7 linked regions of the Homo sapiens genome follow. The protein of the gene in region 4 interacts with the protein of the main gene of each other region in a pairwise test. Each region holds a gene or a part of one and is shown on either strand. Other genes may lie near its edges.

Region 1 (3,500 bases), on a different chromosome or scaffold from region 4:
TCCAGCCTGGCGACAGAGCAAGACTCCGTCTCAAAAAATAATAATAAAATAAAAATTAAAAATAATTTTTAAAAAAGAATCTTTCCTTTTTCTTTTTCCTCTTTTATATATTCTCTTTTGTCTTTTTCCACATTGTCTGAACTTTTAAGAATCTTTTAATTCACTTTGTTATTTTTGCCTAGCATATTACGAGGAAGTAATTGAGGTTTAAAAGATTTATTATTTAAATTTTTTGCCTTAAGATTATATTATAAAGTTAATTTGAAATCTAAATTGCATTTTTAAATCTAAATTACAATTTTTAAAACCCTTTCCCCATTAATAAGCAGTATATATTGCTTACTTTTTTTTAATTCTGTAAAGAAATGTGATTTTTAAAACAAATTAATATGTTTAGGGAACAATTTATATTGAAATTTAACCAGGTGTTATAGTATCAAAAACCAATAAAACCTGCATTATAATCTTATGTAATTGGAATCTTATATTTTGACCATATAAAAATCAACTTTTTTGTTTTAAACTTTCATACTTTATTTTAAAACAATGTAATTGTAGAAAAGATCTTAGCCTGCTACTTGCAAATACTTCACAAACATTGTAGTTGTGCAGAGTCTTACATCCCAATAAGTTAAAAGCCAAAGTGAATATAATTAACTTTATTTTCTCTTGCATGTTAATTTTTAAAGGAATAGACACATTTAATGCTCTATATAGGAATTTTGATCAGGCCAGGCGCAGTGGCTCATGCCTGTAATCCTAACACTTTGGGAGGCCAAGCCAGGTGGATCAGTTGAGGTCAGGAGTTCGAGACCAGCCTGGCCAACATGGTGAAACCCCGTCTCTGCTACAATTACAAAAAATTAGCTGGGTATGGTGGCACAAACCTGTAATCTCAGCTACTTGGGAGGCTGAGACAGGAGAATTGCTTGAACCCAGGAGACGGAGGTTACAGTGAGCCAAGATTGTGCCATTGCACTCCAGCCTGGGCAACAGAGTGAGACTTAATCTCAAAAAAAAAAAAAAAGAATTTTGAGCAAATGAATACAATTTATAGACAAGCAGCTTGATGTGAGTTTGCAGAATTATAATCAATTTTATGTTGTGTTTCAACATCTGTGTCCTTTATATTCTTTATCTTAATTGGCCAAAATGCAGCTGGTTAATATTTAATATTATACACATATTATTAAATAATATATGATTCCCGATCATTGTATTTAATTTATCTCTTTTGTCTCCAGCCCTTACCCACCAACATAAGCACACTTAACCTAGACTTCAATATGCAGTAGACGCAGTAAATAAACAAATCAATGGGTGAATGCTTATTACTTTTTTCCTTAAGCAACTCTCCTCATATTTTGTTTGCTTGTTCTTCATTTTCTAGGAGAATGTGGATTATATTATTCAGGAGCTCCGAAGACCCAAATACACTATATATTTCATTTGTAAGTATGTTAGTTCACTTTTTCAAACATGTAACAACATCCCAGTTAGTGTGTTTCATTGAGCCCTTCATATCATCAATAACTTCATTGAATCTGTCACTATAAAAGTCTAGTTTATTTAATGTCCTTCCAAAGTATTAAAAATCTTTTGACCTGCCGGGCGCGGTGGCTCACACCTGTAATCCCAGCACTTTGGGAGGCCAAGGCGGGCGGATCATCTGAGGAGTTTGAGACCAGCCTGACCAACATGGTGAAACCCCATCTCTACTAAAAATACAAGATTAGCTGGGCATGGTGGCACATGCCTGTAATCCCAGCTACTTGGGAGGCTGAGGCAGGAGAATCGCTTGAACCGGAGAGGCGGAGATTGCAGTGAGCCGAGATTGCGCCATTGCACTCCAGCCTGGGCAACAAAGCGAAACTCCATCTCAAAAAAAAAAAAAATACTTTTGACCAATATTCTGTTTCAGAGGGCTAAATGTGATTTCCATTCATCTTTGATTGCTTAAATTAAAAATTTTACATTTTACTTTGCCTTTCAAGATGCTTTGTAAGTCAAAAGTTTTAAGTAGACAAATTTCACATCTCACCCCTGCCAAAAAAAAAAAGTATATACTTATCCCTGTTTTACACTTAAAAATTGAGGCATGGAAGCTGATTTATTTTTTGAAGTGGGAAGGTAATACTTGAGTTTGCTGGAAAAGCAGAAATTTACTTTACATACCAGATAAAAGCCTTTCACTTCTCTTTGTTACTATATTTAATGCACTGAAAGTATAAATCATCAGGTAGTGATCTCTTATGTGCACAACTTTCTTGGAGTGGGGGTTAGGTAGGGGAGATCTGGAAATAAACTAGGTTTGTGTTTACTATACAATTTACATGGATTTTTTTGATCCAATACATTCGGCTGTAGAAGTTACATCTATTCTCCTCTAGATGTCATTATTTATCTTTATGTTAATAGTGTTAGTGTAGTCTATTTGGTAACATTTCCAAAACCAAGGACTAGATTTAACAGTAAGTAGGGCATTTGAGAAGTTTTAAAGCTTACTTAAAGGTATTAGAGTTTTAGGGTTTAGACTACAGTCTAAGACGTACATACTTTCTTCAGCGTATACTACTTAAATAGAATAATGATACAAAAAATTAACATTTGCGAAAAGACTATATATATATAAGAGCTCTCTCATATTTTATTTCATTCAGTTCTGTGTAGAATTGAAAAGTTACATAAAGCTTGTCCAGTGGGTTTTCAGTGCACGACGCCCCAAGAGGTAAAAATAGGCAATTTTATTAATCTGTGGCAACTTAATTTTTGTTTGTTTTTGTCTGTTTGTTTTTGGCTAATAGTCACAGGTTTTCTTTTTAAAATTAAACTTTCTATTTTGAAGTAATTGTAGATTCATGTGCAGTTAAAAAAAAAACAACGAATAATAATACAGAGATCCCAGATACCCTTTACCCAGCTTCCCCCTGTGTAGTATCTTACATGATGATAGTACAATATCACAACCAAGATGTTAACACTGATACAGTCAGGATACACAACATTTTCATCTCTATAAGGATCCCTTTTATTAGCTTATATGGACTTCTGTCCCACCCCAACCCCCTCATTAACCCTGGTAACCACTAATATTTTCTCCATTTTATATTTTGTCATTCGAAGAATGTTCTATAAATGAAATCATACAGCATATAATCTTTTGGGACTGGCTTTTTTCACTCAGCATAATTCTCTGGAGAGTCATCCAGGCTGTTCTGTGTGTGTGTGTGTGTTGTTTTTGTTTTTTTTTTTTGTCCGAGAAGCAGTCTTGCTTTGTCACCCAGGCTGGAGTGCAGTGTCGCCATCTCAACTCACTGCAACCTCCACCTCCCGGGTTCAAGCGATTCTCCCACCTCAGCCTCCCGAGTAGCTAGGATTACAGGTACACACCACCACGCCCAGCTAATTTTTGTATTTTTTTTTAGTAGAGACAGGGTTTCACCGTGTTGGTTGTCCAGACTGGTCTCAAACTCCTGACCTTGGGTGATACGCCCGCTTCA
Region 2 (3,500 bases), on a different chromosome or scaffold from region 4:
CGGGTTCATGCCATTCTCCTGCCTCAGCCTCCCGAGTAGCAGGGACTACAGGCGCCCGCCACCACACCCGGCTAATTTTTTGTGTTTTTAGTAGAGACGGGGTTTCACCATGTTAGCCAGGATGGTCTCGATCTCCTGACCTCGTGATCCACCTGCCTCGGCCTCTCAAAGTGCTGGGATTACAGGCGTGAGCCACCGTACCCGGCCTGGTTGTTTTGTTTTTGAGACAGGGTCTTGCTCTGTTGCCCAGGCTGAAGTGCAGTTGGGCTCAAATGATCCTCCCACCTCAGCCTCTGGAGCTGCTGGGACCATAGTCGTGCCATGCCCAGCTAATTGCTTTTGTTGTCCTTGTTGTTGTTTGTAGAGATGGGGTCTCGCTACATTGCCCAGGCTAGTCTCAAACTCCTGGGCTCAAGCGATTTACCTGCCTGGGCCTCCCAAAGTGCTGGGATTACGGGCGTGAGCCACCATGCCCAGCTGGTGTCAGTTTTTTAATTTATATTTTAGATACTTAAAATTTTTGAATTTGGCTCCCCATCCGACCAGCCATATTTCAAGGGCCCAGCATCCCCCTGTGGCTAATGGGGACTGAACTGGGTAGGGCAGGTATAGACTCTGAGGACACAGCTATGTGAGCAAAGCAGTTGACAGCTGACTGAGGGACCAGGCTGGCCACATGTTACACACCAGCCTGACATCAGCCAGCTGTGTGACCTTGGACAAGTCACCTCCCCTCTGTGTCTGGTCTTCCAAACTGGCGTACTCCCAGCATGGGCCTCTAGGGCTTCTATCCTGATTCAGTGAGAGACTGGGTGCCAGGTGCCTGCTCATGGCATCTGCTATTAGGGGACAGCTGATGGCTGAGGAGCTGTTAGCCTGAGGTTCAGGTTGCTGTGTGGAGTGTTCTAGACAAGGGTAAGGCAGGTCCTAAACCCCCCACCTCTTGGGCTTCTCCTGCCTGTCTTTTCAATTTCAGTTCAGCTGCCCCTTCCTCCAGAAAGCGCTGTCTGATTCCCCCTTCCCCAGACCACGCCAGGTACTTTACATGGGCTTCTTGGGGGCTGCTTCTCCACAACCCCAAGATACCCTCCACCACGGCTCTGACCTCTGTGGGGGTAACCCATGTATTCTTTGCCCTGGACTTAGTGCCGTGCAAGGACAAGCAGCCCCTAGCCTCCCTGATGCTGTGTCCTCAGCATCAGCTAAGGGCCCGACAGGCCACAGGCACACAAATGATTCTGGCTGAAGGAACCGGCCTGGCTCCGGCATCCCTAGTTCCAGGCATTAGGGGAAATGAGGCCCCTCTCACCTCCCCCTCCTTTCTGCCCTCCCCTCCTTCCCTTCCCAGGTGGTGAAACTGAAACAGATCGAACACACCCTGAATGAAAAGCGCATCCTGCAAGCTGTCAACTTTCCGTTCCTCGTCAAACTCGAGTTCTCCTTCAAGGTGGGGTCCCAGTGGCCAAGGGCGGGGGGTCACTGCATTGGGTCCCAGCCTTCTGGCCCCCAGGGCTGGGGTCGGAGCTGAGGACAATCAGTGGCTGCTCTCTTTTGTGGAAGAACAAGATCCCTGGAGGAGGGAGATCAGGGGACAGGAGTCAGGCTGGGACTCTGGTAGACCCAAGTTCAGTTCCTGGTCCAGCCAGTTTGTAGTTCGATACCCTTGGTGAGTCACCCAACCTCAGTAACATCCCTCAAAAGCAGCACCTGGTTTATGGTAAGAGCCTGACCCAGGAGCACAAACTCTGCCCCAGGCAGCCGGGGTTCATTTCCCAGTTCAGTACTTCTTGATGTGTGGCCCCGGGCAAGAGACTTATCTCCCCAAGCCTCAGCTTTCTCATGGTAAAATGGGGATCATACCAGTTCCAGCCTGGTGGGGTTGTCATGACAGTTCCAGGCACGTCTTGAGCGCCCTTTGGGAGCCGTTTTGGGTGCCATCCAAAGCTGTGGTCATGAGAAACAGGAAAGGCCACTCAGGGCCAGCTTCATGGACGTTTGACCCAGAGAAGCACAAGGGCCTGTTCTCCGAGGGACCCCACACCTGGTTTAACGCTTTGCTGCTGCTGCTGTCTTGAGATCCGTAATAATTTTTTTTTGTTGAGACAGAGTCTCACTCTGTTGCTCAGGCTGGAGAGCAGTGGCGCAATCTTGGCTCACTACAACCTCTGCCTCCTGGGTTCAAGCAATTCTCCTGCCTCAGCCTCCTGAGTAGCGGGGATTACAGGTGCCCACCACCATGCCCAGCTTATGTTTGTATTTTTAGTAGAGACAGGATTTTGCCATGTTGCTCAGGCTGGTCTTGAACTCCTGACCTCAAGTGATCTGCCTGCCTTGGCCTCCCAAAGTGCTGGGATTACAGGCATGAGCCACTGTGCCAAGCCTAATTTTTATTTTTTTTATTGAGACAGAGTTTGGCTGTTGTTGCCCAGGCTGGAGTGCAATGATGCGATCTCAGCTCACCACAACCTCTGACTCCTGGGTTCAAGCAATTCTTCTGCCTCAGCCTCCCGAGTAGCTGGGATTACAGGCATGTGCCATCACATCTGGCTAATTTTGTATTTTTTAGTAGAGACAGGGTTTCCCCATGTTGGTCAGGCTGGTCTTGAACTCCTGACCTCAGGTGATCTGCCTGCCTCGACCTCCCAAAGTGCTGGGATTGCAGGTGTGAGCCGTGCCCGGCCATTTTGTTTTGTTTTGTTTAAGATAAGGTCTTACCCTGTTGCCCAGGCTGGAGTGCAGTGGCGCAATTACAGCTCACAACCTTTGCCTCCCAGGCTCAAGCAATCCTCCCACCTCAGTCTCCTGAGTATGAGACTACAGGTGCACGCCATGATGCCCAGCTAATTTTTGTATTTTTGCAGAGACGGGGTCTCACTATGTTGCCCAGGCTGGTCTCAAACTCCTAGGCTCAAGTGATCCACCCACCTTGGCCTCCCAAAGTACTGGGATTATACAGGCATGAGCCACCACACCCGACCCTCTGTAATAATTTTTTAACCAGGGGCCATCTTTTTTATTCTGGGCCCCACTAATTCTGCAGCCTATCATGATCCCATTTTACAGATGACAAAACTGTGGCCTCAGAGCCTTACTCAAGCTCCCAGAGCAAGGTACTACAGAGTTCTCTCTCCAGCCAAGGCAGGCTAACCAGGTCCTGACATACCTCTGAGCCAGCCCTCACTTTCACCCATTAACAGCAGGATAAGGGTCGCCCCTGTAGAACATGATTCCTACAGGGAGCCAGGATCGCTGTTGTCATTTAATGTTTGAACACCAGCCGGGGAGGCCCCCAAGGCCTTCAGATCGGGTCCAAGTCTCAGGGGTGGGCCCTTGACCAGCCACTGCTTCCCACAGGACAACTCAAACTTATACATGGTCATGGAGTACGTGCCCGGCGGGGAGATGTTCTCACACCTACGGCGGATCGGAAGGTTCAGGTAAGCGGGCCACCCCCCATCACATCAGGCTGTCAGGGTGTCCACAGGTGGCAGTGCACGACC
Region 3 (3,500 bases), on a different chromosome or scaffold from region 4:
AAAAAAAGCCACCCAACTGACAAGAAACCAACCTCTTGGTAACTCTATCTATTTTTCCACAGGCATTTCTGTGCTGAACACACAGGTACCTAATTCTTAATTGCCTAGAGTCTTCCATTAATTAAAATACACACACATAAATATTCTAAGTTGTCTTTAACTAAGGAAAAATATAAAACATATCTTACTGACTGAAAATGTTAATCCTATGTATAGGAAAGAAAAAGGGCATCTTTCTTGCTTTTTTTTTTAACAAGGTGTCCCTCTGTCATTCAGGGTGGAGTGCAGTGGTACAATCTTGGCTAACTGCAACGTCCACCTCCTGGGCTCAAGCGATCCTCCTGCTTCAGCCTCCTGGGCTCCGCCTCCTGGAACTCCAGGGGTATGCCACCAAGCCCAGCTAATTTTTGTTTATATTTTTTGTAGAGACGTGGTTTTGCCATGTTGCCCAGGCTGATCTTGAACTCCTGGGCTCAAGCAATCTGCCCACCACAGCCTCCCAAAGTGCTGGGATTACAGGAGTGAGCCACAGAGCCAAGCCCAAGAAAAGCATTGTTTGCTTTTGAGTAGCTTTTGTTTATTATCTTGTCATCATTGGAGACTCTCATCAGAGCTTGAAAATTTTGCTCTGCCATTGGTATTTGTTCAGATATTGTCACAGGATACATAAGTACTGAGTACAATTATACTTTATGCCTAAGTACAATAGATGTACACCTAAAAGCTGTTTCTAAATCAAACCTTTTAAATGCACTGAACTAACTACCTATTTAATGAAAATCTATATGAAATGAGGTTATAAAAGTGAAGAATCTTTTTGTAAATCAGTCACTCAGTTGGTTTAGTAGATTCAGATGTTTGTACAGCCAGTTTTTTTAAGTGAGACAAGGTATTTTTCTTTTAGAATTTACAGGTGCTTGAAAGTTGTTGGCCAGTATTTTGTAGCTTATAACATCTATCAACGTTCACCCATACAGATGAAAAAGTAAACAATTAAAATGTACATACATCATTGAATCTTAGAATTGGAAGAGACTTTTGAGAGATGAAGATTCCAACTTCCACTGACAGCAGGAATATTGCCTTAGAGAGCTCCATTTGATATATTACTCAGATTCTCAAACTCAACATGTCTATAAATGAACTTGTTGTGCTCCTCCTCACCTCCACAAAACAAAACAAACAAAAAACACCTGCTCCTCTTCTGATTTTCCCTGTCTGGTGAATATCACCATCCAAGCCTAGAAATCTAAGAGATCTCTCATCTACATGTTTTTATCACCTCAACCACTGGTGGCTTCCAGAACATTCTGTTTTATTTCACTTACATAGCTGTATTTCCAGCTAACTCTTCCTTCTCCTTGAGAGTATCAACTATTTTATATTTTCATTCACAGCACAAGTTTGTGCTTCACACAAACTGTATTCAATAATTGTTAATGAAGTATCACTTAAACTAGGAGTAAGAAGGGGTCTAGCATTCATTGAGCATCTCCTGTATTCTGAGTACTATGTTAAGCACTTTACACATTATTTCACTAATTCTTTCAGGAAACTTGTGAGGAAGTTACTATTACTGTATCCACCTTACAGTTAGGAAACTAGGGCTTAGAATCATTAAATAAATCAACCAAAAACATACATACCCAGAGCACAGGTCAGTATAATTCCAATGCCTGTGCTCTTTTCCCTTACCTTTATTTCAATCATCTCACCTCCTTCACTGAGGTTTATCTGGACCATTTACAAGACAGTTTTTTTTTTTTTTGAATTCTGGAAATCTTTACTTTGGTATATTTAACATAGTTTATAGAGTTTTTTTTTTTTAAACAGCATGTTTCTACGTCTATTTTTATCTCTCTCTGTCTCTCTTACTTTCTCTGAATCTGCCTATTTCATTCTGAGTTCCTTCCAGAATCATATCTCTGTCTTCTAGGCCCATCTCCACCTCACACTGCACTTCTATTACTATCTCTTCTAGAACTGTATGCCTGCATTCCTCAATGTCTGTGTTGGAAGCTACCTGGGTTGGTCACATGTATTGCTGAAAGCCATGTCTATGTATGCTGAAAACTATATAACAACAATTAGAGTACCACAGCTTTCCTAAGGCTTAAGAGGGTGCCATATAAATTGTCCTGTACAGAGGAAAAGCTCTTAAATTTTGTTTGGAAATCTAAAATTTATTTCCAAGTCAGTGTGACACTTGAACCTCATTATGAAATTAAGCTTGGGAAAGCACGCTATGGGTCAGGATTGCTTTGGGTAAGGTCAAAATAGGATTTATTAACCGGGGACTTCTGAACTTCCTAGAACTGTTTGCAGAATGTGTTTGTATGTCATATATGCATTTTTCCTGGGGAAAGGGTTGCCCATAGCTTTCAAAAGATTCTCAAGAGTCTTTGAAAGAAAAAAACCCAATCATTAGTACTCTAAAATAACCTACCTTAACTTATTTCAGCTCTGTAAAGAATATTTTAAGATAGTTACTGCCTCTTGCTTATTTTAGCTTTTCTAGACTGTTTCGAATCTGTTTGATTTTTAATTATCATATATTAACTGTTTTAGCCAATTTTCGGGTACTGAATACTTTTATCAACTTCTTCAGACGTGTTCAATCATCTCTAATTTATGAGGCTTTCTTGTTCTGGGTACTCCTAATATTTTAGAATCCTTTCAATTATCCCCCATTTCCCCTACCTTTCTGGTTATCTAAGCACCTGAACAATACCCTTTATGCGCATTGCCTCATTTACTTTTCACAACAACTCTCTAAAAGGTAGGTATTATCATTATTTAAAAAAAAAAAAAAGTAGGCTGGGCGTGGTGGCTCACGCCTATAATCCCAACACTTTGAGAGGTTGAGGCAGGCGGATCACAAGGTCAGGAGATCGAGACCATCCTGGCCAACATGGTGAAACCCCGTCTCTACTAAAATACAAAAAATTAGCAGGCGTAGTGGCGCATGCCTGTAGTCCCAGCTACTCGGGAGGCTAAGGCAGGGGAATTGCTTGAACCCGGGAGGCGGAGGTTGCTTGAGCCGAGATCGTGTCATTGCACTCCAGCCTGGCAACAGAGCGAGGCTCCGTCTCAAAAAAAAAAAAAGTAACTTGTTCAAGGTCACACTTGTTTCTAAGTGGCAAAACTAAGAATCAAACTTAGGATAAAACTTTAGAAATAAACCTATATATATCTATGGTCAACTGATTTTCAACAAGGGTTCCAAGACCATTCGATGGAGAAAGAATACTCTTTTCAACAAATGGTGCTTGGACAACTGGATATCCACATGCAAGAGGATGAAGTTGGAGTTCTACTTCATATCATTTATAAAAATTAACTCACAACAGATCAATGATCTAAATGTAAGAGCTGAAACTATAAAACTCTTGGAAGGAAAGATAGGCATAAATCTTTGTGAACTTAGGTTAGGCAGGCAACAGTTTCTCAGATGACACCAAAAGCATAAGCAACCAAAGAAAATATACATAAATGGTACT
Region 4 (3,500 bases):
CCTGGGCAACAAAGTGAAACTGTCTCAGAAAAAAAAAAAAGAATATCACCTAGTTCCTGCTTTCAAGGAATCTGAGAACACTGACGATACTGTTTATTCTACCAGGTCTTACTCTCAGGATCCAACCGTACTCTCCTGGAACATCAGCTTATTTTTAACTTGTAGACAGTGTAGAGAAGTTCCAGAGCCAACTCTGCCTGCTTCCTCTAGAGAAATTTATAAAACCTTACGCAATACACTTCATTCCAATCTTCACTAGTGTTTCCTTATTTTTTAAAGAAATCTGGGTGTGCTATATTGTAAGGACTTCAGATACTTCTTGGATAAGACAAGAGTAATATAAGTAAAATAGTAACTCGGACAACGCTCTTCTCTCCAGCATAATTTCTGTTTTATAAATACAGCCTAGAGCCATGCTGCTTAACCTCAGAATTATCTGAAGATCTCTTTAAGATAGCACTGTATCAGATCCTTTCTCCAGAGATTCTGACTCCAGTGTCTCTTAAGTGGCCTTAGGTAGGGTGTGCTGTTCACACTCAGAAAAAAAAACCCTACTCACTCTGATCCCCACACTGACAGCAAAGGATGGCTGGCTGAAAATCTCAACAACAGTATTCAGGTAAGTTTGCTCCCCTACTCACTCTGATCCACACACTGACAGCAAAGGATGGCTGGCTGAAAATCTCAACAACAGTATTCAGGTAAGTTTGCTCCCCTACTCACTCTGATCCACACACTGACAGCAAAGGATGGCTGGCTGAAAATCTCAACAACAGTATTCAGGTAAGTTTGCTCCCCTACTCACTCTGATCCACACACTGACAGCAAAGGATGGCTGGCTGAAAATCTCAACAACAGTATGCAGGTAAGTTTGCTCCCCTACTCACTCTGATCCACACACTGACAGCAAAGGATGGCTGGCTGAAAATCTCAACAACAGTATTCAGGTAAGTTTGCTCCCCTACTCACTCTGATCCACACACTGACAGCAAAGGATGGCTGGCTGAAAATCTCAACAACAGTATTCAGGTAAGTTTGCTCCCCTACTCACTCTGTTCCCTACACTGACAGCAAAGGATGGCTGGCTGAAAATCTCAACAACAGTATTCAGGTAAGTTTGCTCCCCTACTCATTCTGATCCACACACTGACAGCAAAGGATGGCTGGCTGAAAATCTCAACAACAGTATTCAGGTAAGTTTGCTCCCCTACTCACTCTGATCCACACACTGACAGCAAAGAATGGCTGGCTGAAAATCTCAACAACAGTATTCAGGTAAGTTTGCTCCCCTACTCATTCTGATCCCCACACTGACAGCAAAGAATGGCTGGCTGAAAATCTCAACAACAGTATTCAGGTAAGTTTGCTCCCCTACTCATTCTGATCCCCACACTGACAGCAAAGAATGGCTGGCTGAAAATCTCAACAACAGTATTCAGGTAAGTTTGCTCCCCTACTCATTCTGATCCCCACACTGACAGCAAAGAATGGCTGGCTGAAAATCTCAACAAAAGTATTCAGGTAAGTTTGCCTTTGCAGTAAGCAGATCTAGGGAAGCAGCATGAAATGAACCAAAAAATACTTTCCCATCATTTATTATCTCAGTAGGGAACGAATGGTGCTGGTGAACTGATACGCATGAATTTCTCGATCACATTTTAGCAGAAGAGGAACAAATACTAATTTGATTAATATAATATGAATTAGTACTCTTAATTGGAATATCACTCAGTAGAAATTGAATTTTATGAGGTCTTATGTTTCAGCTTTAACGAGAAGATTTTGCAGGGAGGAAAAAAATCATTCTGTTGGATTTTATGAACAAGATTTCCTTTTATTATTTCCACTAGTCACTGGTAATACTAGTGAACACCTGAGAGATTAAAATACAGATTTGCTTTGAGATCCTGGAAGTATTATACCAAATTAAATTACTTACTTTGAAAACCATGAGAAGAATCAGAAGAGGATGGCATGGACATTAAAATAAAATTTCCCTATTAATAATAGGGAATAAATGGTTCTAATGAAACATTAGTCTTATTCAATTATGATATGTGAAACTATCCTGCAACAGAGAACAAATTTCTTAATATAATCTCAAAGATAACAGTAATAGAAACCAATCTTTTAAACAACAATCTCACTCTGTAAATTTATGGACTTGGCATGTTCTACTTCTACTAATTCAAACCAAGTGCATATTTCCGTCAAGTCTATGGAGGATACAATGTTTCCTACAGAAGTAGTATTACCACTGCTTTCTAAATAACCCACGCTGAAAGGTAACTATAAAAGTTATCTAGGAATAGGAATTGACCATTTCCATCTCTTCATCTTTTATTCTGGTTCCTCCCAGAAATATATCAACATTCTAAGATTATTTTGCATGGTAAAAACAGACATGAAAATATATGTCCAATACCTAGTACTGCATTTTTTAAAAATTACAAAACACCATGTAAAGTGTATGGTCAGATGTATTGATCATGAAAATGGATGCAGTTATGCACACATGGTCTTTTCACAGAGAAAGAAAAAAGATGACAAATGTAAAATGAGGATGGGGCAAGGCTAGTCCTTAATAGATAGGAATATTAGTTGGAAATATGTATTCGTTTGACTAAGCAGAAATAAAATATGTTAACTCTGAAAATTTGGAGAGATGAGAAACAGACAGGATGAAGAGGAGGAGGATATATAGAACTTAATATTTTGGTATCACAAAATATAGGTGAGCCAAGAATAAAACTGGAGCTTAACCAATGAATGGAGGATTCACCTGTGTCTGGGAGCTTAGGTACCACAACTGCTTATAGTACACTATGCAGCCCCTTCCTCCCACTAATAACAAGAATAGTCACATGTGAATGGAATAAGTAAATGTTAAGGGAACAATAACACAGTAGCTCCATCTTGGGGCAGGTTCTGAGGAGTGATTTGGAAAGAATATGTACAGAATGCAAAGCATGAAATCACAAAGGGACAGAAATGTTTTAAAAATGAAAGGAACTATAATATAGTTACTACACTGTGATTTGAGCTTAGATACCTCTTGACATCTACTAAAAACTACATTGTTGTGGACCCACATAGCTTCACCTGCTCTACGCGGTAGCCTTGTACACGTGGGGGAAAAGTGCAGCCCTACATAATGGTAGAGTTCACCAGCCACTATAATGGTGGTATTCTCCATAGCACTGTAGTATCCAAATGTTGCTGTGATACCATTATCTTTTTAAAAAATGCTGAATTATCTGCCTCTCAGGATCAAAATCAACGACAATTATTTGATCTACATGAAAATAAGTTAAGTATCTGGACAGATTTGTGCATGCCTGCGACAGTCACAATACTACATTGTAGCACTGTAAAACAATCTTCTATTGAAGTAATAATTCCTTCTAAAGTTCAAATGATAATGCTGAAGCCCAACCAGGTAATGCTGCAAGGAAACCTCTGTCTGCGAAAGATGAAATTAAACAAACAAAAGCTGGAAC
Region 5 (3,500 bases), on a different chromosome or scaffold from region 4:
AAAAAAAGGAAAAGAAGAAAGAGTTATTATGTTTATGGAGCTAAGAGTTTTAAAGAAGGTAAAATTCTGAACCAGGCTTGTCCTGATTAAGCTAGGTTTTTATAGCGCATTACAGTACGTGTGCACATACAGCAACATATGTATAATAATTATATATGCAAGCATTTGGAAGTCTTTAAGTATATTTTAATTCTTGTTGTATCCCAAGTGTTAATTGATATTTGGGCCTGTGTGTTTTTGTGATTTACTTGCCATTGAAAGTGAGTTTTGTTTTTTGTTTTTGTGTTTTGAGACGGAGTTTGCCTCTTGTTACCCAGGCTGGAGTCCAGTGGTGCGATCTTGGCTCACTGCAACCTCCACCTTCCGGGTTGAAGCGATTATCCTGCCTCAGACTCTCAAGTAGCTGGGATTACAGGCACCTACCACCGTGCCTGGCTAATTTTTTATAATTTTAGTAGAAACAGGGTTTCACCATGTTGGCCAGGCTGGTCTTGAACTCCTGACCTCAGGTGATCCATCTGCCTTGGCCTCCCTAAAGTGTGGGATTACAGGCTTGAGCCACTACTACCGGCCATGAAATGTATTTTTAAGTGTTGTTCTTGGTGCATTATTTGCTTAACTAGCATGACTAAAAGTTATTTAAATAACACTAAGTTTATCGCGTATTCTGTGTGATACAAACATGCATAATGTGTGTAATAATGCTTTCCTCGGTTTCTTTTCACGTATTTTGTAGGACCTTGCCTCATAGTATTCGATCAGATTCAGAAGATATCTGTTTATTTACGAAGGATGAACCCAATTCAACTCCTGAAAAGACAGAACAGTTTTATAGAAAGCTTTTAAACAAGCATGGAATTAAAACCGTTTCTCAGGTAGGAAGCCTGGTTAATATTTTCAAGTTATTTAGAGGATTTAATTCAGGCGAAATGGTATCACAAATACATTGCTATATTTCCTAGTATTTTTCTTCTACTTTTCTCTTTTTAATTTAATTTGTGGTGGCGTGTACATCAGTAGCTTTTATATCTTGCAAATTATAAAAGAGGTGGCTCGTGTCATTCCTCTGTACTTCCACAGCATCTTGTTTTTCTCTGATTTGCTGTTTTGTAGTTGGTGTACTTGTCTTTATTACCCTCTGGATCTAAGGTATCTAAGTTTTTTTGTTTGTTTGGAGTCTCGCTCTGTCGCCCAGGCTGGAATTCAATGGCAGGACCTCGGCTCACTGCAACCTCCACCTCCCAGGTTCAAGCTATTCTCCCACCTCAGCCTACCGAATAGCTGGGATTACAGGCACCTGCCATCATGCCCGGCTAATTTTTATATTTTTATAGAGACGAGGTTTCACCATGTTGGCCAGGCTGGTCTTGAATTCCTGAGCTCAGGTGATCCACCCACCTCGGCCTCCCAAAGGGCTAGTATTACAGGCGTAAGCACATACAGCAACATATGTATAATAATATATATATGTTGCCCACCTAGATCTAAGTTGCTTTAGCTGGGGTCTTTTCTCATTTGTCTCAGTGTTCCCAGCATGTAGCGTAGTGCCTGGCACATTTTAGGCCCTCAAGTGTTCATTAAAGTATAGAGGCATGGCTCTAGGACATTTTTAAATCCAAATCCAAATTGTTGCCTAAGTATTTCTTCTCCTTGTTTAGATTCCTAACTTCTTGTTTTTATTCTTCTCTATACTTCCTAGATTATCTCCCTCCAAACTCTAAAGAAGGAATATAAATCCTATGAAGCCAAGCTCCGCCTTCTGAGCAGTTTTGATTTCTTCCTTACTGATGCCAGAATTAGGCGGCTCTTACCCTCACTCATTGGGAGACATTTCTATCAAAGAAAGAAGTAAGTTTCTTAGTAATGACTGGACTTTAGCAGCATGAAGCTTCTAGGTGTGTATGCATTGTGTTCTGAATGCCTGTGTGTTTATTTTGTAGAGTTCCAGTATCTGTAAACCTTCTGTCCAAGAATTTATCAAGAGAGATCAATGACTGTATAGGTGGAACAGTCTTAAACATTTCTAAAAGTGGTTCTTGCAGGTAGGTAAAAGGCATTCATGTGTGCCTCTTTTAATCTTGTATTTGACAATGATTTTATATATACTTATTCGTTTTGTTTTGTTTTTTGTTTTTGTTTTTTTTTTTTGAGATGGAGTCTTACTCTGTCTGCCAGGCTGGAGTGCAGTGGCACCATCTCGACTCACTGCAAGCTCCGCCTCCTGGGTTCACGCCATTCTCCTGCCTCAGCCTCCCGAGTAGCTGGGACTACAGGCGCCTGCCACCACGCCCGGCTAATTTCTTTTTGTATTTTTAGTAGAGACAGGGTTTCACCGAGTTAGCCAGGATGATCTCGATCTCCTGACCTCATGATCCGCCCGCCTTGGCCTCCCAAAGTGCTGGGATTACAGGCGTGAGCCACTGCACCTGGCCTTTTTAAAAAGATTTTGTTAATGGCTCCAGATCCTTTTTTAAAACTAAAATCTATTCCTCAGAAGTGATCAATTCTCGGGTCAGGTGCAGTGGCTTATGCCTGTAATCCCAGCACTTTGGGAGGCCTAGGCAGGAGGATCGCTTGAGCCCAGGAGTGCAAGACCAGCTTGGGCAACATAATGAGACCCTCTCCCCCAGCCAATTACAGAAAAATCAAGAACATTAGTCAGGTGTGGTGGTGCATCCCTGTGCTCCCAGCTACACAGGAGGCTGTGGCAGGAGGATCACTTGAGCCTAGAAGGTCAAGACTGCAGTGAGCCATGTTCTTGTCACTGTTCTCCAGTCTGAATGACAGAGCAAGACTGTCTTTAAATGAAAAAAAAAAAAAGTTCAGTTCTCTAGAACAATGTTGTCTGATAGCACTTTCTACTGTGATGGAAATGGCCTGCATCTGTGCTGTCTCATACAGTAGGCACTATTTGTATGTAGCTATTGAGCACTTGAAATGTGGCTACTGTGTTAGAAGCTGAATTTTTAGTTAATTTAAAATAGGCACATGTGGCTAGTGGCTGATGGTCACTGCATTGGACGGGGCAGCTCCAGATACTAAGAAAAGCAAGGAGAGTAAGATGAATGCTTGGAGAACATGACTAGTTCTAGGCTTTGAGCTTGTCCTTTATCGTGCCACTGCACTCAGTGGTGCAGTCACAGTTCACTGCAACCTCCAACTCCTTGGCTCAAGCAATCCTTCCACCTCAGCCTCCTGAGTAGCTGGGACTACAGACACACATCACCATACCTGGCTAATTTTTCAATGTTTTGTAGCGGCGGGGTCTCACTATTTTGCCCCATCTAGACTTGAACCCCTAGACAAAACCGGTCCTCCTGTCCTGGCCTCCAAAAGTGTTGAGATTATAGGCGTGACCCACCACACCTGGCCTCAGATTGTCCTTTAAAAGCACCATATTACCCCTTAACGTGAAGATCCACCTCATTCTTGGTTTAACTTCCTATTAAATGAATTCAGCACTTATCCTGTTCATCTGCCTATTTGGTGTGTGTGTTGTC
Region 6 (3,500 bases), on a different chromosome or scaffold from region 4:
GCCCCAGAGGTGAAGTGAGGCCACGTTGAGGGCCCACACGGAACTGTGACTTGTGGTCACCATAAGGCCTTCCCACCTCCAGCCCGGGGCTATGATAGCAACAAGCCACTGCCTGAGACATGAAGAGTGACACCCTCCCTGGCTCCCGAGGCCTGGGGCCCATAGGCTGTCTTCTCCCCGCTTCTCCAGACCACTTCCTGGGCAACGCCACTTCCCATCTGCAGGGCCCGTGCTAAAGAGATAGTGCCGGTTCCCAGCCCACGAGGACATCTGACACAGGAGAGACACTGCTTGCAGTAAATAAATACATTTCAGAAGCAAAAAGAAAGGCGGCCAATGCATATTTAACATGGAGAGTATTCCCTCTCAATCATGGTTGTAAACTAGAAGGATACATATTGCCAGCCCCAAAAGTATCCAAGGAGGCACATTTTAACCAAAAGGGGCTGGTCGTGAATGGAAAATTATCTACATGACTCCATCCATTTATCCAGGGAGCAAAGCGCATGTCCCTCATGGTACACACACACACACACACACACACACACACACACACACACTCTCTCCATACCACATGCACACTACATGCATGCCACACACACTATGAACACATGCCACACCTGCACTACACACACACCATGTACTACATGCACACTATGCACATCACACACACCAAACACACAAACTACATACATACCACACACACGAAACACACTACACACATCACATGCTACACTACATACATGCTACACACACAAAACAGACATGAAACACACCACTGCATGCACACAACACACATCACACACACTACCCCACACACATACACATACACACAAACTACATACACACCACACACATGAAACACACCGCACACACCAAATTCTACGTTACATACACACAAAACACACATGAAACACACCACATGACTACATGCGCACTACACACATCACATACGGTACACCACACACCACACACATCACATACACTACACCACACACACACACTCCATACCACATGGACACTACATGCATGCCACACACACTACGAACACATGCCACAGCTGCACTACACACACACCATGCACTACACGCACACTATGCACATCACACACACACCACACACACAAACTACATACACACCACACACACAACACACTACAAACAACACACACTGCACACACAACACAAATTACATACATACCACATACAACACACTACACACACTACACACACCATGTACTACATGGACACTACACACATCACACACACCAACTACACGTACACCACACACACAACACACTACACATATCACACACTGCACACACAACACACAAAAACTACATACACTCCACATACAACACACTACACACACCACACACACTACACACACCATGTACTACACGGACACTACCCACATCACACACACCACAGACTACATACACACTACACACACAACACACATAACACACTGCACACACAACACACAAACTACATACACACCACATACAACACACTACACACATAACACACTACACACACCATGTACTACACACATCACATACACCACACACACAAAATACATACACACCACACACAGTACACACTACACACATCACACATACTACACACATATCACACACAAACTACATACACACCACACACCATACTAAACACATGCTACACTACATACACACTACACACACAAAACACACACGAAACACACCACACAACTACATGCACACTACACACATCACACACACTACACCACACACATACACCCCCATACTACATGCCCACTACATGCATGCCACACATATGGACACATACCACACATGCACTAAACGCACACCACACACACACAAACTACATACACACTACACACACAACACACTACACACATCTTACACACACTGCACACGTCATACACAAACTACACACACACTGCACACATACTACACACAGTATACACAAACTACATACACAGTACACACAACACACTACGTGCAGCACACAAACTACATACACATTACACACATAACACAGTACACACCCACACACACTGCAAACACACCACACACACAAACTACATACACACGACACACAACACACTACATGCAACACACATACTACACACTACACATAAAAACACACACAAACCACACCACATCACTACATGCACACTACACACATCACACACACTGCACACACACCACACACAAACTACATACATGCCACACACACACCATAGTACACACAACTAACACTACACTACATACACACTACACACACAAAACACACACATGAAGCACACCACACCACAGATCCTGCACCACGATGATGTGAAGCGGCTTCTTCTCAACATGCACTATCCTACAAGGGGCTATAAAATGTAAGAGCATCAGCCTGACACAGGCGACAGAGTTTTCCCCAGACGGTGTCTATCCACAAGTCAGTACTCCTGGGCGAGCCCCTAATGAGGCATGGGTTTTATTATAATTTGAGGGTATTAATCATCATTTCCTGGCTTGCCTCTCACAGCAGTTGACTATCAATGACTTTTCTTTGTCCAACAAGTTTCTAAAAATTCATCTCTTAGCAAGGTGTTTTTGTTTTTTAAAGTATATCTACATTTACTTTTGAGTCTAAGAATGCTGTTAACAGAAAGACATCTCTGGAAACACAGTGTGCTGATGAGTCTCTTGGAAGAAATACTTCTCTTTGGACTGCTTTCCCCTTTCTACAGTTTTTTTTTTTTTTTTTTTTTTAGAAGAGACGGGGTTTCACCGCATTAGCCAGGATGGTCGCGATCTCCTGACCTCATGATCTGCCCGCCTTGGCCGGGCGCGGTGGCTCACGCCTGCATTCTACAATGCTTTTGTTGCAGGCCAGCCACTGCCCCCAGCCTGCTTTTCCCCCACTCCACCCTTTTCCTGCAGTGGGTCTTCTCGGGCCTCCAACCTCATTTCCATTGTTTCCCCTGCAGCCCAGCACGTCTCATACTTCCACGTGGCCTGGGGGCTCTGACACACCCAGGGCCTGAGACGCTGCTGCTCCTGCAATCCTGGTGATGCGGATGCTGGGTTCTGATGCCACCTGAGACCAGGTTCTCCATCTTCTCTGCCTTCCCTGCCCAGGCGGTGTCCCAGCCAGGAACCCAGGAGTCCTCCGCAGGACTTGCGTTCTCTAAGGTTCGTTTTCCAGGCGCCCTTGGTGCATGTTCCTTACTGCCCATATCCATGACCACTGCTTGGCGTAACCCTGTCCTTTCCACTGCTGCCCTTCACTCCTCACCTTCTGCCCTCCTGCTTCCTGACGCCTCCCTCTCCAGCTGCCCGGTCCTCCCTCAAAGCGCACATCAGCCCTTCCTGCCTATTCCAACATGCCCAGTCCACAGACCACACTGGACTGCACCGGGATGCTGTGGCTTTCCCTTCTTGTTCTCACCACGTGTGCTTTCTGCTGAGGCGTGCAGCTCTTCCTCCCAGCCATCTCAGTCATCCT
Region 7 (2,767 bases), on a different chromosome or scaffold from region 4:
CAAATGCTTACCACAACAGTAATATCTGTTTTAATGACTTCTTTTCTCCCTTCTAGTCTGTAGATGTTGACTGGCCACCTGCTCTGGATGACTAGCTTTCAAATTTGGAGACAAAGAGTATGGTTTTCCTGGCATGATGTGGACATCCATGGAGCACATGCCGTAAAATGGCTGTTTACCCACCATAACGGTGTCTTGAAAACTATTTGGATCATGTTGATCTATATAATTGTTAATTTGTTGTAACATCTCAGGATCTATATATGTGTATATTTTGTGTTAAATTGTTCCAAGGATGTCTTAGGATTTTTCTCATTCCCTCTTTCACCCCCACAAACCAAACTATGAATAATGAAATAATTCTCCTTAATTCTTTCATTTAGAGAGGTGCACAAACAGGACACATTCTCTGTTAACCTAAGAAGCTGTAATTTCAGCAAGATTTCCCTCCACAAGAGATATACCACCTTTAAAATCATGTTCTAATTTTTGTAAATTATCTGAATAAAAGTTATATCTAGATTTATGCAGCATAATATCCTATAATAGTCTAAGATTGCAAATGCAAATCTGACATCATTATTTTCCCCAGGAAGCCTCAAACAAGCTATTACCAATGAAGTTCTTTTGGCTGTGATTTGTCATAAATCTTAACCAAACTATGAATAATGAAATAATTCTCATTAATACTTTCATTAAGAAAGAATTTTGACAATCTAAAATTGTCAATATAGGTTTCCTGTGGAGGGAAAGTAAAACCGTAGGAGCCAAGGCATGCCATGGTAGGAGCCTTTCATAAATCTTTTAAATAAGGAGAAACAAGTGCCTTTAATAACTTCAATCCCAGGGTTAAGAATTTGAAAAATTGAGATTGCTAAACAAAGACGAACTGGTATTATTTCAGAATGCTTCAATATATTATCCAATTATAAACATTTTAATAATACCTTATTAAAGTAGATAGGATATTGTCTCCATTTTATAAATATGGAAACCAAAGACTAGAAGTTAAATGACTTATCCAAAATTGTTAGCTACTTCTATATTGAGGACTAGAACTGAAGTTTCTTGGTTTCTAGGGTCTTTCTAATAAGCCCTATTACTGAGCACCTGTTTGTGTGAAGGGGCAGCTATGGATGCCATTTAAACTCATGTAACTGATAATTAACTTTTGGAATGTAGTTACCAAATCAAAGAGCTTACCAAAAAATAGCCCAAGACTATTTAATACAATCTTATATAGTTACCATTTGTTATTAAGTTAAACCTCAGTTGGTATTATGAAGAGGAAAAACATTAAGCTAAACCTAAAAAAAATGAATGGGTCATTTAAGTTTCAGAAAGGAGCCTCATTACAATTTCAGATTTGAGTATAATTTCCATCACCCTAATTCAACTATTTGAGCTTTTTTTAAGAATACATGTGACTTGACTAGTATTAGATTACTAACCATTTCCCATCTCTATATTAAACATAAATCACAGATACCAAGATTCACTTTAGATATGAGGAAAATGGTTTTAATGGACACAAAGGAGTCAGCCACGTTGGAACCAACATAGTTTCATACCACGTTGAAACCATGTGTTTGATATGCAAATAACAGCAAATAATTTTTTCACTCTTGTCAATGCCAATGCATTGAAAGGCCCAGAAAATGAGAAAAGGATAACAAACTTTTGATAAAAAGGTAAGAATTTCTGTGTGGATGTTCCTCAGTTTCTGGGAAAATTTTGCTACAAAAGAGATTTAAATAATTTAGGAGGCAGTCTTTTGCATGGTATTTTTGGCTTACCTTTGAATCTAGTGGACCTGTAATATGTAAGAATGAAGAATGTGCTTAGCAAACTGAAATGAGAAGATTTCTATTTCTTAAATTTCTATTCCTGAGATTATATAAAATTTCACGCAAAGAGTAAGCATTAGCTTTAAATACTTCTTCCAAATGTTCCTAGAATTTTGAGACAAAGATTGTTAAAAATTAATGTATGTCTTTGTTTTAGGCAGAACTGGAAATATTAAGTAGTGAGAGTACTATAGTTTCCCTTTTGCCTACATAAAAGCATTTTAAAATTAGTTTTATGATTTCTTTGTAAGCTTTATTTAAATTCAAAGTCTTTTTCATAACACTTAAGAGAAAGAGCCCTTTGTACTTCTTAGTATCTCTTATATAGTCCCAAATATAGTCTGTGGTTTATTTTAGGAAAAACATCAACTCTGAATACCTGGAAAAGTCAAAAGAAAATAAAGTTGGTAAAATGAAAAATGTCCAAGTAAGAAAACCGGTTACATTTGCAAGTTATGTGAAGTAAATTTAGAAGTTAAATTTCCATTTTGTAAGAGAAAAACATCTTACTTGGCAAATCTTTTCTTTTGGAGCTAATTATTCTTTGATTTTTAAGTCCACATAAGAGAATGAACTTTGATATCAGCTTTTCTGATTTTTTAACAAAGGCTACCCTTGTTTATTATGAAAAATATTACTTTTATGATTCTATTTTGAATTTTTAAATTTTGAAATAATTCCAAACTTACAGGAAAAGTTAAAGTACAAAGAACCTTTTTCCCTGAACCATGGAGCCAGTGCTGTCTCATGATCTTAAAGGCTTCAGTGTGTAATTTCTACAAACAAGGACATTCTTTTACTTAACCACAACACAGTGATCAAAACCAGGAAATTAACACTGGTATATTACCATCTAACCCACAGACCCCGTTCAAGTTGCCAGTTGTCCCATCAGTGTCCTTCATAGTCAAGTGCTCACA

Evidence for each region.
Region 1: the proteins of USP25 (region 4) and VPS45 interact in a two-hybrid assay, tested with the Homo sapiens proteins (one large-scale study listed by BioGRID and IntAct).
Region 2: the proteins of USP25 (region 4) and PRKACA interact in binary tests that used the Homo sapiens proteins (3 or more experiments, as listed by UniProt).
Region 3: the proteins of USP25 (region 4) and MID2 interact in binary tests that used the Homo sapiens proteins (3 or more experiments, as listed by UniProt).
Region 5: the proteins of USP25 (region 4) and RSL1D1 interact in a two-hybrid assay, tested with the Homo sapiens proteins (one large-scale study listed by BioGRID and IntAct).
Region 6: the proteins of USP25 (region 4) and SYK interact in binary tests that used the Homo sapiens proteins (3 or more experiments, as listed by UniProt).
Region 7: the proteins of USP25 (region 4) and PUS10 interact in binary tests that used the Homo sapiens proteins (3 or more experiments, as listed by UniProt).

Annotation. Positions count from the first base shown.
Region 1 is NC_000001.11:150,070,776-150,074,275, forward strand, and holds part of VPS45 (vacuolar protein sorting-associated protein 45), read left to right. Parts: intron 1-1,390; coding exon 1,391-1,451; intron 1,452-3,500. UniProt on the Homo sapiens protein: May play a role in vesicle-mediated protein trafficking from the Golgi stack through the trans-Golgi network.
Region 2 is NC_000019.10:14,100,763-14,104,262, reverse strand, and holds part of PRKACA (cAMP-dependent protein kinase catalytic subunit alpha), read left to right. Parts: intron 1-1,348; coding exon 1,349-1,447; intron 1,448-3,354; coding exon 3,355-3,437; intron 3,438-3,500.
Region 3 is NC_000023.11:107,835,866-107,839,365, reverse strand, and holds part of MID2 (probable E3 ubiquitin-protein ligase MID2), read right to left. Parts: intron 1-3,500. UniProt on the Homo sapiens protein: E3 ubiquitin ligase that plays a role in microtubule stabilization. Mediates the 'Lys-48'-linked polyubiquitination of LRRK2 to drive its localization to microtubules and its proteasomal degradation in neurons.
Region 4 is NC_000021.9:15,834,482-15,837,981, reverse strand, and holds part of USP25 (ubiquitin carboxyl-terminal hydrolase 25), read right to left. Parts: intron 1-3,500. UniProt on the Homo sapiens protein: Deubiquitinating enzyme that hydrolyzes ubiquitin moieties conjugated to substrates and thus, functions in various biological processes including inflammation and immune response.
Region 5 is NC_000016.10:11,845,043-11,848,542, reverse strand, and holds part of RSL1D1 (ribosomal L1 domain-containing protein 1), read left to right. Parts: intron 1-736; coding exon 737-875; intron 876-1,699; coding exon 1,700-1,848; intron 1,849-1,940; coding exon 1,941-2,042; intron 2,043-3,500. UniProt on the Homo sapiens protein: Regulates cellular senescence through inhibition of PTEN translation. Acts as a pro-apoptotic regulator in response to DNA damage.
Region 6 is NC_000009.12:90,839,819-90,843,318, reverse strand, and holds part of SYK (tyrosine-protein kinase SYK), read right to left. Parts: intron 1-3,500. UniProt on the Homo sapiens protein: Non-receptor tyrosine kinase which mediates signal transduction downstream of a variety of transmembrane receptors including classical immunoreceptors like the B-cell receptor (BCR).
Region 7 is NC_000002.12:60,939,723-60,942,489, reverse strand, and holds the end of PUS10 (tRNA pseudouridine synthase Pus10), read left to right. Parts: intron 1-56; coding exon 57-95; 3' UTR 96-2,267; downstream 2,268-2,767. UniProt on the Homo sapiens protein: Protein with different functions depending on its subcellular location: involved in miRNA processing in the nucleus and acts as a tRNA pseudouridylate synthase in the cytoplasm.